Linked DNA regions of Homo sapiens. The protein of the gene in region 1 binds, or shares a complex with, the protein of each later gene. Each region holds a gene or a part of one and is shown in the gene's direction. Other genes may lie near its edges.

Region 1 (7,022 bases):
TGTTTCTTATATATTTGCCTTTGGATGATACCTTCAAACAACCAATTTAAGTCTGGACACTGTGGCTCATGCCTGTAATCCCAGTATTTTGGGAGGCCGAGGTGGGCGAATCACTTGAGTTCAGAAGTGTGAGACCAGCCTGGGCAACATGGCAAAACTCTGTCTCTACAAAAACATTACAAAAATTAGCCAGGCCTGGTGGTGTGGGCCTGTAGTCCCAACTACTCAGGAGGCTGAGTAGGGAGGATTGCTTGAGCCCAGGAGGCAGAGGTTGCAGTGAGCCGAGATCAAGCCACTGCATTCCAGCCTGGGCAACAGAGCAAGACCCTGTCTCAAAACAAAATAAGAAACCGATTCAAAATATTAATTTTGTCTATTTTTAATTCCTAGGGTCTGAAACCTGGCTTCATTACTCTGTAGGCAACAGTTCCTTCCCTTTGATTTGCTGTTTATATGAAACATGTAACAATTCATGTCATTAAGTATATCTTTTTCTGGTCTTAGATTAAGTTTAAAAAGTTTCACTTTGGGCCCCCCACGTTGTGGCTCACAGCTGTAATCCCAGCACTTTGGGAGCAGGCCGAGGGATTGATCACTTGAAGCCAGGAGTTTGGGACCAGCCTGTCCAACACGGTGAAACCCCGTTTCTACAATTAGCTGGGCGTGGGCATCCCACACCTGTCATCCCAGCTACTTGGGAGGCTGAGGAACGAGAATCCCTTGAACCTGGAAGGCGGAGGTTGCAGTGAGCTGAGATGGCACCACTGTACTCTAGCCTGGGCGACAAAGGGAGACCCTGTCTCAAAAACAGTTTCCACTTTGTTCACTATTTCTATTTTGTTCACTAGTAGCGTCCCAGAAAAGATTTGAGGTAGCAACACTAAAAACACACTAATTCCATTTCTACATAGAATAAACTAAAGAGAAAAGAGAAAACAATTTGTGGAGAAAAGTGAAGATAATTAGATAGGTTGGGATTGAGGGGAAGGGTTAAAGGTTAAAAAAAGAAAAATTGTGCTTCTCCATTCTGGAAAGTCCCCAGCTTTTTCTTTGTTTTGTTTTATGTCCAAACTGTGTACATATTGGATTCTTTCCTACTCCTTAGTCTATCAGTCAATCATCAGTTGAGACTTGAGTACACTACACCCTAAAGTCATGAGTTACTTAATGGGTAGTTGGAATTCAGTACCTTTAGTGTGTTTTATTCTCTAACTCACCTACCCGAATAATTTGATTCAAAATAGACTAAAAAGTCTTATTTTTATTGGATGATATGAGCAGGCACTAAATACAGTACAGTATTAAACTTTGGGCTGACACAGTACAGAACCAGTCAAGATAGGGCTCTAGCCTGTTAGGAGATTGCTTTTACTCTTCCAAGTCAGCGTTCTCACTGGGCACGGTGGCTCATGTCTGTAATCTCAACCCTTTGGGAGGCTGAGGAAGGGGGATTACTTCAAGTCAGGAGTTCAAGGCCAGCCTGGGAAACATAGCAAGATCTTGTAGGCTGGGCGTAGTGGCTCACGCCTGTAATCCCAGCACTTTGGGAGGCCGAAGCGGGTGGATCACAAGGTCAAGAGATCGAGATCATCCTGGCCAACATGGTGAAACCTGTCTCTACTGAAATGCAAAAATTAGCTGGGCGTGGTGGCTTGCACCTGTAGTCCCAGCTACGCGGGAGGCTGAGGCAGGAGAATCGCTTGAACCCGGGAGGCGGAGGTTGCAGTGAGCTGAGATTGCACCACTGCACTCCAGCCTGGCAACAGAGCAAGACTCCGTTTCAAAAAAAAAAAAAAAGATCTTGTCTCCACTGAAAATATAAAAAATTAGCCAGGCATGGTGGCATGTGCCCGTAGTCCCAGCTACTAGGGAGGCTGGGGCCAAAGGATCCCTTGAGCCTGGGAGGTCGAAGTGCAGTGAGCTATGATCATGCCTGGTCGGCAGAGTGGGACCCTTTCTCAAAAAACAAAATAAAATGAAATAAAATTAAACCAGAGTTATAAATCCTGTGAGCCAGCATTTTCCTTTGGGTCTCATAAAAACTAATCCTGTTTATGGTGAAACCCTGTCTCTACTGAAAACACAAAAAATTAGCTGGGCATGGTGGTGGGCACCTGTGATCCCAGGTACTCGGGAGGCTGAGGCAGGAGAATGGCGTGAACCTGGGGGATGGAGCTTGCAGTGAGCCAAGATCGCGCCACTGCACTCCAGCCTGGGCGACAGCGCGAGACTCTGTCTCAAAAAAAAAAAAACTAATCCTGTTTAGATTTTTGTTACCATTACCTCCAGTGCATACGATCTAATTTTTTTTTTGAGACAGAATTTCACTCTTGTTGCTCAGACTGGAGTGCAATGGCACGATCTCAGCTCATTGCAACCTCTGCCTCCTGGGTTCAAGCGATTCTCCTGCTTCAGCCTCCCGAGTAGCTGGGATTACAGGCATCCACCACCATGCCCGGCTAATTTTGTATTTTTAGTAGAGACGGGGTTTCTGCATGTTAGGCTGGTCTCGAACCCCTGTCCTCAGGTGATCCACTCGCCTTGGCCTCCCAAAGTGCTGGGATTACAGGTGTGAGCTACTGCACCCAGCTGATCTGATTCTCTTAATTAAGCAACACTAGGAAATACTAATGTTATAATTTTATTTTAAATTAGAATTCAGAGTCACAGGTTCCTGTTAGGAAGGTTCTTTCTGTGTGTAGTGCCCAGAAGCTCAAACTAATGACAGATGAAAATACCTCAGAGAAGTTGGAGGGTATAAATTAGAGATGTGCTTTATAGATCCTAACTGAGAGATCAGGCTGTGTACCTAGTCACAGAATTGATTTTAATTGAAATGTTGATGAAATTGGTGATCACCAGAATGACCCAAAGGTGTGTTACTAGAGCTCTTTGCAGGGATAGGTTCACCCCTATCATTCAGGTTTCAATTACACTATGAATCAAAAAAGGAATAGGATGAAATATTTAAAAATATAGGCCAGGGGCCAGGCGTGGTAGCTCACGCCTGTAATCCCAGCACTTTGGGAGGCCGAGGCAGGTGGATCACGAGGTCAGGAGATGGAGACCATCCTGGCCAACATGGTGAAACCCCGCCTCTACTAAAAATACAGAAATTAACCCGGCTTGGTGGCGAGCATAGTCCCAGCTACTCAGGGGGGGTGGAGGCAAGAGAATCGCTTGAACCCAGGAGGTGGAGATTGCAGTGAGCTGAGATAGCACCACTGCACTCCAGCCTGGGTGACAGAGTGAGACTCCTTCTCAAAAAAAAAAAAAAAAAAAAAATCTAGGCCAGGCCCGGTGGCTTACGCCTGTAATCCCAGCACTTTGGGAGGCCAAGGTGGGTGAATTACCTGAGGTTAGGAGTTCCAGACCAGCCTGGCCAAGATGGTGAAACCCTGTCTCTACTAAAAATACAAAAATTAGCTGGGGCAGAGGTTGCAGTGAGCTGTTATTGCACCAACGCACTCCAGCCTGGCAACAGAGTGAGACTCCATCTCAAAAAAAAATAAAAAAAATAGACTGGGCACGGTGGCTCACGTCTGTAATCCCAGCAGAGCGAGATTCCGTCTCAAAAAATAATAATAAATACAAATAATAAATACAAATAAATAAAATTAAAAAATAAAAATCTGTAGTGCCATCTGCCTCCAAAGGCTTACTTAGCCTTGCTGGTTAATAAAATTATTATTCAAGAGAAACTATCAAAGACACTGAATTTGCCCCTAAGACAAAGAAGCTGTTTCTGCAAAGGGACACCTTATGTAGATGAAAAAATTTAATAGTTTGGAACTTTTGTATTCTGATCTCAGTCTCTCTAAGTTTAAGAACTTGTTCCTTAAATTTTTTTTTTTTTTTTTTTTTTGAGACAGAGTCTTGCTCTGTCGCCCAGGCTGGAGTTCAGTGGCACCGTCTCGGCTCACTGCAAGCTCCGCCTCCTGGGTTCACGCCATTCTCCTGCCTCAGCCTCCTGAGTAGCTGGGACTACAGGTGCCCGCCACCATGCCCAGCTAATTTTTTGTATTTTTAGTAGAGACGGGGTTTCACTGTGTTACCCAGGATGGTCTTGATCTCCTGACCTCGTGATCCGCCTGTCTCGGCCTCCCAAAGTGCTGTGATTGCAGGCGTGAGCCACCGCACCCAGCCGTTCCTTAAATTTTTTATTGCCATACAATTTCAGTAATGTTTTCCCATTTCCACCTAGTGACAGACTACATTCTAGTTTTAGCCTTTGCAGCAAATTGAGATCCAGTTTTCTGGGGAAAGATTGCTACATTTTTATAGCTTTCTTTTCCTGTAGAGATGTGACAGTAAATAAAGTGGTTCGTATTTCCAATGATTAATCTTTTTAAAAAATAAACTCTATTTTTTAGAATAGTTTGTTTTTTAAGAAAGAAAAAAAAGAAAGAATAGTTTGTTTGTTTTTGGTTTGTTTGAAACAGGGTCTCACTCTGTCACCCAGGCTGGAGTGCAATGGCGCAGTCACAGCTTGCTCCTGCAGCCTTGATCGTGCAGGCTCCATCTGTCTTCTCACCTCAGCCTCCCTGGTAGCTGGGACTAGAAGCACACGCCACCATGCCCAACTAATTTTTGTATTTCTTTTGTAGAGATGGGATCTCACCATGTTGTCCAGGCTGGTCTCGAACAACTGGGCCCAAGAGATCCACCTGCCTCAGCCTCCAAAAGTGTTGGAATTTCAGGCATGAGCCATCACGCCTGCCCTAGAATAGTTTTAGATTTATTTTAAAAATTGTAGGCTGGGCGCGGTGGCTCACGCCTGTAATCCCAGCACTTTGGGAGGCCAAGGCGGGTGGATCACCTGAGGTCAGGAGTTCAAGACGAGCCTAGGCAACATGGTGAAACTCTGTCTCTACTAAAAATACAAAAATTAGCTCGGCGCGGTGGCATGTGCCTGTAATCCCAGCTACTTAAGAGGCTGAGGCAGGAGAATCGCTTGAGCCCAGAAGGTGGAGGTTGCAGTGAGCCGAGATTGCATCATTACACTCCAGCCTGGGCGACAGAGCGAGACTCTGTCTCAAAAAAAAAAAAAAATTGTAAAGCTAGTACAGGGAGTTCCTGTTCTGCAACTGGCCAGCAGAACATCTTAAGTGGAATCATATGCAGTTATTTGCGTCTTATTTTTTTCACTTAGTATGGTGGTTTCATTTTATTATTACTATTATTATTAATGAGGCAGAGTCTCGCTCTGTTCCCCAGGCTGGAGTGCAGTGGCGCATTCTCAGATCACTGCAATCTCTACCTCCCTGCAATCTCTGCCCTGCTAGGTTCAAGCGATTCTCCTGCCTCAGCCTCCAAGCAGCTGAGACTACAAGTGCACACCACCATGCCCAGCTAATTTTTGTATTTTTGTAGAGATGAGGTTTCACCATGTTGGCCAGGCTGGTCTCGAACTCCTGATCTCAAGTGATCTGCCTGCCTCAGCCTCCCAAAGTGCTGGGATTACAGGCGTGAGCCACTGCACTCAACCAGCATAGTCTTTTAATGGTCTTGAGATGTGGTGTGAATGTATAGAAACTATTCATGGCTTTTTGTTGCTGAATAGTATTCCATTGTGTGTGTATATATCTATACACACTACATTTTGTATCCATTAGCCAATCCATTGATATGTGTGTTGTTTTCACTTTTGGCTATTATAAATAAATATGAACATTTGGGTACAGATCTTTGTGGAGACATAGGTTTTCAATTCTCTTGGATAAATAATTAGAAATTGTATGCCAGGTTCTGTGGTAAGTATATATTCAGCTTTATTTTTGAAAAACTGGCAAACTGCCTTCCACAGTGGCTATATCACTTTGCATTCCTACCAGCAGTGTATGAGGATTCCAGTTGCTTCACGTCCTCACCAACAAGTTGTATTATCAGTCTTTTTTCATTTTAGCCATGGTAGTGGTGTTTAATAGTATCTCATTGTATTTTTCATCTGCATTTCCCTAATGACTAATGATATGGAGCAACCTTTTGTGTGCTCATTTGCCATTCCTGTATCTTTTCTGGTGACATAGCTGTTCAAATTTCTGCTCTTTTTTTTTTTGAGACGGAGTCTCGCTGTCTCCCAGGTTGGAGTGCAGTGGCACGATTTTGGCCCACTGCAACCTCTGCCTCCTGGGTTTAAGCAATTCTCCTGCCTCAGCTTCCTGAGTAGCTGAGATTGCAGGCAGACGCCACCACGCCTGGCTAATTTTGTATTTTTAGTAGAGATGGGGTTTCACAATGTTGGTCAGGCTGGTCTCGAACTCCTGACCTTGTGATCCACCCGCCTTGACCTCCCAAAGTGCTGGGATTACAGGCATGAGCCACCACATCCAGCCTTCTGCTCACTTTTTATTGGTGATTTGTCTTATTATTGAGCTATAGGACTTGCTTATATAAATATTTTTTAATTTCTTGATCAAAACAGCATATGTTTTGGAGTTTATCTTCAATGTGTAGATGAACATAATGAAAGGCTGTTAAGTACTAGCTAAGTACCTAACTGGAATATAAGTGCTGTTTTGCATGTGTAAGTAACTAAATAATAGATCTGGTAGAAATATAAAGTATTTTTTTGTGTGCCACTCCCTTTGCCCAACACCAATGAATCCATCTCTCCAAATCTGCCTGTTCTAGTGAATGCTAAGTTTTTTATTTGTTCCCTTTTTTTTTTTTAACTTTGATATGATAATTGTTGGTTAGGGTCCAGCTGTGGTGAAAACTCATCTTATGGCTGAGTTTCAGGTGTGTGCCAACATGGCCTGCTAAATTTTGTATTTTTAGTAGAGTCAGGGTTTCACCATGTTGGCCAGGCTGGTCTCGAGCTCCTGGCCTCAAGTGATCCACCCGCCTCAGCCTCCCAAAGTGTTGGGATGACAGGCATGAGCCACCACAGCCAGCCAGACACGACAGCATCTGTAGATTATGTTCTATTCCATTACTTAATACTTCTTTTTTCTTTTCTTTCCCTCCCTGCCTTTCTGTTTCCTTCCCTCCCTCCCGCCCTCCTTCCTTTCTTCCTTTCT
Region 2 (7,964 bases), on another chromosome or scaffold:
TCATTTTATACATCTAAAAAACATTATGCTGAGCAAAAGAAGCCAGATACAAAAGAGAACATACTGAATTATTCTATTTATATGAAGTTCTACAATAGGCAAAACTAATATGCAAATATAGGCAAAACAGAATAGTGGCTGCCTGGGGAGAAAGAGAGGAGAGGTTTGACTGGGAAGAGGCATGAGAAAACTTTCTGAGGTGTTGGAAAGCTCCATCTGTATCTTGATGGTGTGTGGATTATATGGGTGTATGCCTGTGTCAAAACACATGGAACTATATACTTGAGATCTGTGCATTTCACTGTATATAAGTGAAATAAATACAAACAGAGTTAAAATAATGCCATTCTAATTCCTTCTGTATAAGTCTTATCAACAGGAGATACATGTTAATAGACTTGTCTTAAGAAGGTCTATAAGATCCTCCACGATCTGGCCCCTTACCTTCTTTTCTAGCCTTCTCTGTTACCACACTTTTGTCACCTTCTCTTTTCAGTCCTTCACCAGCACTGACCTTTCAGTGTACCAATGGCGTTTGTACTCTTCTCATATTCCTGCGCCAGGACTTTTGCACATGCTGTTATCACTCCCTAGAATGTTTCTCCTTCTCTTCTTAATGGGAGACTGGTTAACTCCCATTCTTCTTTTAGTTCTACTCTTCTGTCTGTTTCTCAGGGAAACCCTCCCATGTCTCACTTTATTACACACGTCCATGGAAACTTTGTCCAGCTGCTGTGTATGCCTGTGCAGCTTGTTCATCTAAACAAGGGTTCCCAGCTGAGGTGACAACTAAAACTAAAATCAAATTTGTGCTCCACTCACAAAGCCTTGCACACGGAGCAGGGTTGTATCAATCTGGAAAAGGGGGTGCCTTTTCTAATTTACCAAAGTCATTGTTTGCTTGCCAAGCTTTACCTACTCTGGGCTCTTTCTGCTATGGCCTTTTAAAAAATAGCACAAAGATACCATATGGGCTAGCAGCAGCCCTGACCTTGTACTTCCCCTTCATACCACTTACCACGGTAATTTCACATTTATTTGGTTAATGCTTGTTTCTCCTACTTGTCAATAAGCATGATGACAGCAGGAAATTGTCTGGTTTTGCTTATTGTCAAGTTTCCTCAGCACCTGGAACAGTGTTGGGCACACAGTAGGTACTCAGTAAATATATATTAAATCTATTCGTTATTTTTCTTTTTTTTTTTTTTAAGACAGAGTTTCACTCTTGTCACCCAGGCTGGAGTGCAATGGTGTGATCTCAGCTCACTGCAAACCTCAACCTCCCGGTTTCAAGCTATTCTCTCACCTCAGCCTCCCGAGTAGCAGGGATTACAGGCTCCAGCCACCACGTCAGGCTAATTTTTGTATTTTTAGTAGAGACGGGGTTTCGCCATGTTAGCCAGACTAGTCTCGAACTCTTGACCTCAGGTGATCCACCTGCCTCGGCCTCTCAAAGTGCTGGGATTACAGGCATGAACCACCACGCCCGGCCCCATTCGTTATTTCTTAACGCTGGATGAATATTAGGCTGTTTGAAGGTAGAGACTGTGTCTTATTTTCTTTTTTATTGTCCCCTCCTCCCCATTGCCCCTGGAATTATCCTACTGCTTTGCATGTAAATGGCATTCAGTAAATTCTTCCTGATTGATTTGAAAACGTTCAAATAAGCCATATGATGTTCTGTTCATAGAAAACCAGATCTGCAAGCATATGATTACACATTGCATGAATGATGATGAACAGCTGCTATTTATGAAGCAGAAGAGACAAAAATGTTGAATGAATGAGAAATAGACTCCAGTTGAAATGGGAAGGATTTAATTTAGCTTTTGAAACTCATTTCCTGATATGAAGCTTACAAGATACCAGGAGACAATGCCAAGGAACGCTGTGAATTTTCTTTTTCTATATAAGTAAATGATCTTGGAAAGTTCCAAGATGGATCAACCACTTACTTGAAGGCTAAGGGGTATTTCTTACTGAATTCTCAACAGCCAAGTATGAGATAGATATTTTAAAGTAAGTTTTTATTTTGGAATACTTTTACAGAAAATTTACTAAGAACAAAGATAGCATAGAGAGTTCCTGTATTCCCCTCATCCAGTTTCCCTCATTATTAACATCTTACATTACCATGTTACATTGGTCAAAATTAAGTAAAGACTGAAATCCGTACATTACTATAAACTATGCTATAGATTCTTTGTTTGTTTTCCCAGTTGTATCTTCTTTCTGTCCCAAGTGAGATAGCTTTTTAAAGTTCTTTGATACTTTATAAACAATTCTGTGGTCTAAAGACCAAGCTCTGTGCATAGAATTACATAAATTTAGAGCTGCCTGGGTCCCTCATCTTGAGGTAAAAGTGCTTTGGCTTTCCAATCAATTGAACACAATCTCTAGTACTGCCACTTGAACAGCTGTGTGTCTTTGGGCATACTGTTTACTTATCCTAAGTCTTAGTTTCCTCATTTGTAAAATGTGGGTAGTAAGACCTCTCCAACTGTGATGGTTCCTGAGATCTTTCACAGTAGGAGAATGCAGTGTTGAGAAACGTACAAATTTTTCTTTTTTAGAGAAGTAGGTCTCCTTATGCAGCGCAGCCTGGCTTTGATATCCCGGGCTCAAGCAATCTTCCTGCCTTAGTCTCTTGAGTAGCTGGAACTACAGGTACACATCAATGCACTCAGCAAAACTTATTTTTAATAGGTAATTAGACTTTTATGGTTATTAAATTAATACCACAAAAGTAGTACTCTGCATGGAACACCTATGACATTTTACATATCTTAAATTAGTAACAAAGACTCTCCTCTGAGCCCTCTTCTCCATCTTCCTGTCTAGCTTGCCTGGCTCAGCTGTAGCAAGAATTCTGCATCAGTTTAGAGAAAAACCCATACCCTGGATATCTGATCACCCCGGCCTTTTTTAGCACAAATTCTGTTAAGTTGGTGTAGCAAAAGTTTCCCCATTCTTGATGTCTCTTCTTAGTAATTTTCCAACCACCAACCCCTCCAACTTTGCTCCTTGACTATACATCCCCACTCCTTGCTGTAATTTGGAGTTGAGCCTGATCTCTCTCCTATTGTGATAGTCTTGACAGCTATCAAAATAGTCCTGAATTAAGTGTTCCTTACTATTTTAACAAGTGTCAGAATATTTTTCCTTTAATGTAGTGACAATAACGTAGTAATATAAACTAATTTCCATTTATCACCCCTGATTCATCAGAAACATTTTAAAAATAACCCCTTCAAGTTTTAATAAGCCTCTTTAAACTATTTTTGCTTTGTTACAGATAATATGAATGCTGTAAGGCATTTTTCTACCATATGTGTCCTTTATCCAAATGTTCAGCACTTTTCTAATTTTATGACTAGACGTTGACTCCCACTTCCCAGCTCCCACTAATCTCTCACACACGGAGTAATTTTAATTTGAAATGCTTTAGTCAATTATCCTTTACTTGTAGAACTATATTTCAGAAACGTCCTTCCCTTTGTTGGGAAAGATGTTCTTAACAAAGGGAAGGATGTTTCTGTCTGCTGATGAAAATGTCATGCCAAAGCACGTCTTACTTTGTCAGGAGCTTACTCTACTCCAGTCTCATCTCTTCTCACCAACTGAGGAGTGCTTAGTAGTGCCTGGAACATTGGAAGTACTGAACAAATGACTGCCGTCATTGAGACCTCAACTTTAATTTTTTTTCGGCTTCTTTATTTCAAAGTCTTCACTGCAGAAACCTCTCATTCTGACCTGCCTTTGCTTTACTTCCTTTTCTCATTCTCAACCAAGAGTTCTCTCTTTATCTACAAAAGAAAGAGTGACTTGCAATCTGCAGATAAGGAAACTGATGTCCTGGTTATAAAGTTATCATGCAGAAATAATTCAAGTATACTAGAATTTTATGGATGGTGCACTCTAGGTGGGTAATGAGGTCTAGAAGAGAAAAGATATACAACATCAAGCAGGTGCCCAAGAAATGGTAGGTCCCTTTCTCCCTTCCTGCCTCCTCATTTTTACAGATGAGGACATTTTTACAGAAGCCCGAATAGATAAGTAGTCACAATCATGTTCTAAGAAAAACAAAAAAAAGGTGGCGGATGCCGTATTTTATTTTTCGTCATCACTCTCCTTTTCCTGCTGCTCATTCAGTTATGGTTTCATGACCCATATAATAATTCCACAAGGCTCACCAATGTTATCTGGCACCTGCTAGAGAATAGATATAGTAACAGAGGCAAATATTTTGGTGAAGTTTAACAGTTGTGTTGCCTTCTAGAATTTCATTGTATCTGATGTGCAAAAACAAGCAAAACATTGTCGGTTAAGTATCACAATCTCATAATGGAGATGAGCACTGATTCTTAGGCCTTGGCGTAGTTCAGGGCCTATCCTTTAGCAGCTAAAAAGAGCACTTTGGCTGTAACTCATTGGAGTCTAGTCTCATAATGTTAGGATATTTCTATTTAAGTCTTAACCACTATTGGTAGCAACTGGAAGGATAATCATTCATTACAATAAATAGTCAACAGAATAAATATCCGACAAGAATTTACGAAGCGTCTAGAGTATAATTCGGTAGCGCTTTGAAATCCACCCTGGGATTCGGAAACCGGGTAGAAAACTACCTGGTTCAGCAAACGAGAATTCAAACAGAGGAGGGGCTTGGAGGAGGCGGGTTTCGACGAACCCAGCGCAAGAGTACGCCACGGCGCCTGCGCATCCCCTGACGGGTACTTTCCATTCGCCAGATGGGGGAAGCCAGGGGGAAGCAGGTTACTGTTTTTGCATTTCTATCTTCAAGGAAGAATTAGGTTATGAATAGTTCCGTGAATAGTCAGGAAGCGCTGTCCTCCAAGTTCAAGATTAAGGAAACGTGGCATGCACAGCTAAAGCAAGAGGTGACGTCTTGTATCTTCCCCCGTTTCCTGGGACATTGGTGGTGTAGCCCATTCCACAGACTTTCGCTCCCTAGCAGCGGGTCGGAGATCGAAGGAACGGGCCAATTGCGGCTGAAACGTCTTTGGAAGGAGGAAGGGGGTGAGGGAGCATCCCTTTGAGTTTCGCCTCTTCTCGAGGCGGTGGTGGGAAGGGAGACATACTTAATACTGCCCTCTTAATCCAACGGACCTTACATCGTGTAGACTGCCGGGAGGGCGGCGGGAAAAGGGCAAGACGGGAGTTGGGGAAGGGAAGGAGCCAGGAAGCCGCGCGGGAGGGCGCGCGCGCGCGCCCCTTTTTCAGCAGTGTGGCGGGGTCGCACGCACGCCCGCCTCGGCGGCTGGGCGCGATTTGCGACAGTGGGGGGGGCGGTGGAGGTGGCGGCGGCAGCGGCAACTTTGCGGCAAGCTCGGGCCGGGCTTGCTTGACGGCGGTGTGGCGGAGGCCCCGCCCCAGGCGGCAGGAACCTGGAGGGAGGCGGAGGAATATGTCCGAGAGGGAAGTGTCGACTGCGCCGGCGGGAACAGACATGCCTGCGGCCAAGAAGCAGAAGCTGAGCAGTGACGAGAACAGCAATCCAGACCTCTCTGGAGACGAGAATGTAAGTGCAGCTTCTGGCAGTTACGAGACTGCGGAGTGAAAGTTTTAAATTCTTTTAAAACGGGGGGCGCGGGGACGAGCGGGCTGCTGTGGGGGGAGGGAGAGGTGTCACTCAGGAAAACGCGGGCGTGCGGGAGAAAATTGAAATTGCCTACGGGGATTTTGATGTGGGGCCGAGAGCAAGCAGGAACTAGGCAAAGGAGAGTGGTTCTAGTGATTGCGTGGGTCTGAGAAGTCTGCCCTGAAATCAGTTTGCATGTGATGGGGAGTGTTTTGGCCTTTGGGGGGATTTAAGGGGAGAGTGCGGGTCTGAGATTCTAGTAGTTTAAAAGGCACGTTAGAGACTTTTCTAAGAAAGTTGGAAGGACGGGGCAGAGTTAGGGACCCTGTTAAAGGAGCGTAAGGGTTGTCACTCTAAGACCCTTGTGGAATTTTCAGGATGGAAAGTGATCTTCGATTTGCGGAGTTTGGGAGACTTTATTAAAGGGGGTTTTGTGTCCGCCTCCGTCCTGTCCGCGGAGACCGGGTGCGCCTGAAGGTCGCCTTTTCTGTAGGAGGAGCCGAATTGAGAGGATCGATTTTTGATTTGGGGGTGGGGAGTGACTACCTTTGAGGAAGTAAGAGTGGGTGATTTCTTCTTTGAACGTTTTTACTTAAGATAAAGGTGAGGGGGGTGGCGACCTGGAAGATTTTGGGCAACAGTGGTATAGGCAGATGTATTTAAGTGTGGGTTCCTGGCTTCGCCAAGTGCGCGATGTTTTGCAATCAGATTTTTTTAAGCTCTGAAATGGGTATTCGTAATCATTCGGTACCAACATTTAACCCAACTGAGTTTTAATTGACTCGCCAGTAAGAGCCGAATTGACATAAATAAGTTTTCAGTTTCATGTTTTAGGTTGATAACCAGTAAGGTCAACGAAGTATCTTGACAATTTATTCAAAGATACTACTCCAAAATGTGATTCTCCTTCTCATGATATATAACAACTTGTGAATATCTTTTAAAAAATCCTTAAAATGTTTCAGAAGAGTGGCGTAAGTTCTTCATTTTCTCAGTTTGGCTAGTTTTAGGAATAAATGTTACATCTTCTACACGCAGTTTCTAAATTCTGTCATAATTCCTAGCTGAAACATATAATGATGTCATGACTAAGATTTTCACGGAAAAGATGGGAAAGGATTCTTTTTGCAGAGACAAGATAGATATTCTTGGGATTGTCAGTTTGTGGGATCTTAGACTTCAAATTTCAGAAAAGCTTGGGTGTTAAGTGTTACTTTTGTATTTTTCACCCGATTGTGCGCCCCAATCTCACTGTACATTGGGATCTAACATTTTTTACCCTCTTCTTTTTATTATTTGAAGACCGTTCATTTTATTTCTGCGTTTTCTTAAATTTCTCTAGGCAGATTAGAGTATTAAGAGCACAGATGCTGGATCCAAGTGATAGGTTAAAATTTCTGTTCTATTAGCTTGACCTCGAGCAAGAGACTGACATAATTGTCTTAGTTTCTTAAAAATGAGGATGGTGGTGTATGGTATTTACCTCATAGAGTATTTGTAAGCATTAAATGAGTTAATATAGCTAAAGTACTAAGAAGAGTGTCTGCCCCATAGTAAGTACTATACACATGTTATTTATTTATAATAATTACTACTACTAATTTTATGATTACATAGAATAATGTTTCTGGCTCTTCCACATACTTAATAATCAGGCAAAATATAATGAAACTGTCAGACCTGTTTAGAATGAAGAAACTTGCAAAGGACAAAATAAAGCTTATTTTCTTCTTGCAGACCCTTACAGGAAAACATATTCTTTGCTGCAATTTTAAAGCTGTTCAAGACCAAATGATTGGATTAGTTTTGTTTTGGTTCCTCCATTTGGATAGCCTTAATTTTGTGTGTGTGCGTGCGCATGCCTTGGAAGCCTTAATCTTGTAGAGTCTTCTCAAAATAACATTTTTAGATGTATGAAATACAGGATATGAGGTTACAAACAAATTCAATTATAAAATTGTACACCATGTTATAAAATATTTCTAAAACAAATTTTAGATGTAGTCCTATACTATATGTACTTTATTAGCACATTAAGTAACAAGATCTAGCAGCGGGTCTGATAGTAGTGATGGGTATAAACACTTTTTCGAAGTGTAATATAAAAATACTTGATTTCCATTGGTGGCAGAGTCACAACTTCAGTAACATTAAGCATGTGTTACCTAGATAATAATAGAAGGAAGTGCTAAATTTTAAAGGTGGCAAAAATTAAGATGCAATTTTTTTTCCCCATTTGAGTTCACAAGCCTTCTGAATTTCATCCATGTACCCCTGACTTAGGGGCAGTAGTAAGGTAAGGGAGTAGAGAACATTGTATAAAAATGAGTTTAGAAAAGATAAGGGCAATAGTTTTACTCTT

The links. Proteins that work in one complex are often made in the same cells at the same time.
Region 2: the proteins of EZH1 (region 1) and EED are in contact, whole or in part, in a cryo-EM structure (PDB 7KTP), measured with the Homo sapiens proteins. Residues at the interface, in NP_001982.2 of Homo sapiens: Gly37, Ala38, Lys39, Leu41, Tyr42, Val43, Asn45, Phe46, Lys48, Val49, Gln50, Lys52, Thr53, Gln54, Leu56, Asn57, Glu59, Trp60, Leu63, Arg64, Val65, Gln66, Pro67, Val68, Gln69, Ser70, Met71, Cys83, Thr84, Ile85; in NP_003788.2 of Homo sapiens: Cys84, Val85, Asn86, Ser87, Leu88, Lys89, Glu90, Asp91, Trp103, His104, Ser105, Lys106, Glu107, Val112, Arg120, Leu123, Tyr124, Gln129, Gly130, Glu131, Ile132, Arg133, Leu134, Leu135, Gln136, Ser137, Tyr138, Val139, Asp140, Tyr154.

What each region holds. Positions count from the first base shown.
Region 1 is NC_000017.11:42,735,019-42,742,040, reverse strand, and holds part of EZH1 (histone-lysine N-methyltransferase EZH1), read left to right. Parts: intron 1-7,022.
Region 2 is NC_000011.10:86,239,802-86,247,765, forward strand, and holds the start of EED (polycomb protein EED), read left to right. Parts: upstream 1-4,951; 5' UTR 4,952-5,428; coding exon 5,429-5,542; intron 5,543-7,964. UniProt on the Homo sapiens protein: Polycomb group (PcG) protein. Component of the PRC2/EED-EZH2 complex, which methylates 'Lys-9' and 'Lys-27' of histone H3, leading to transcriptional repression of the affected target gene.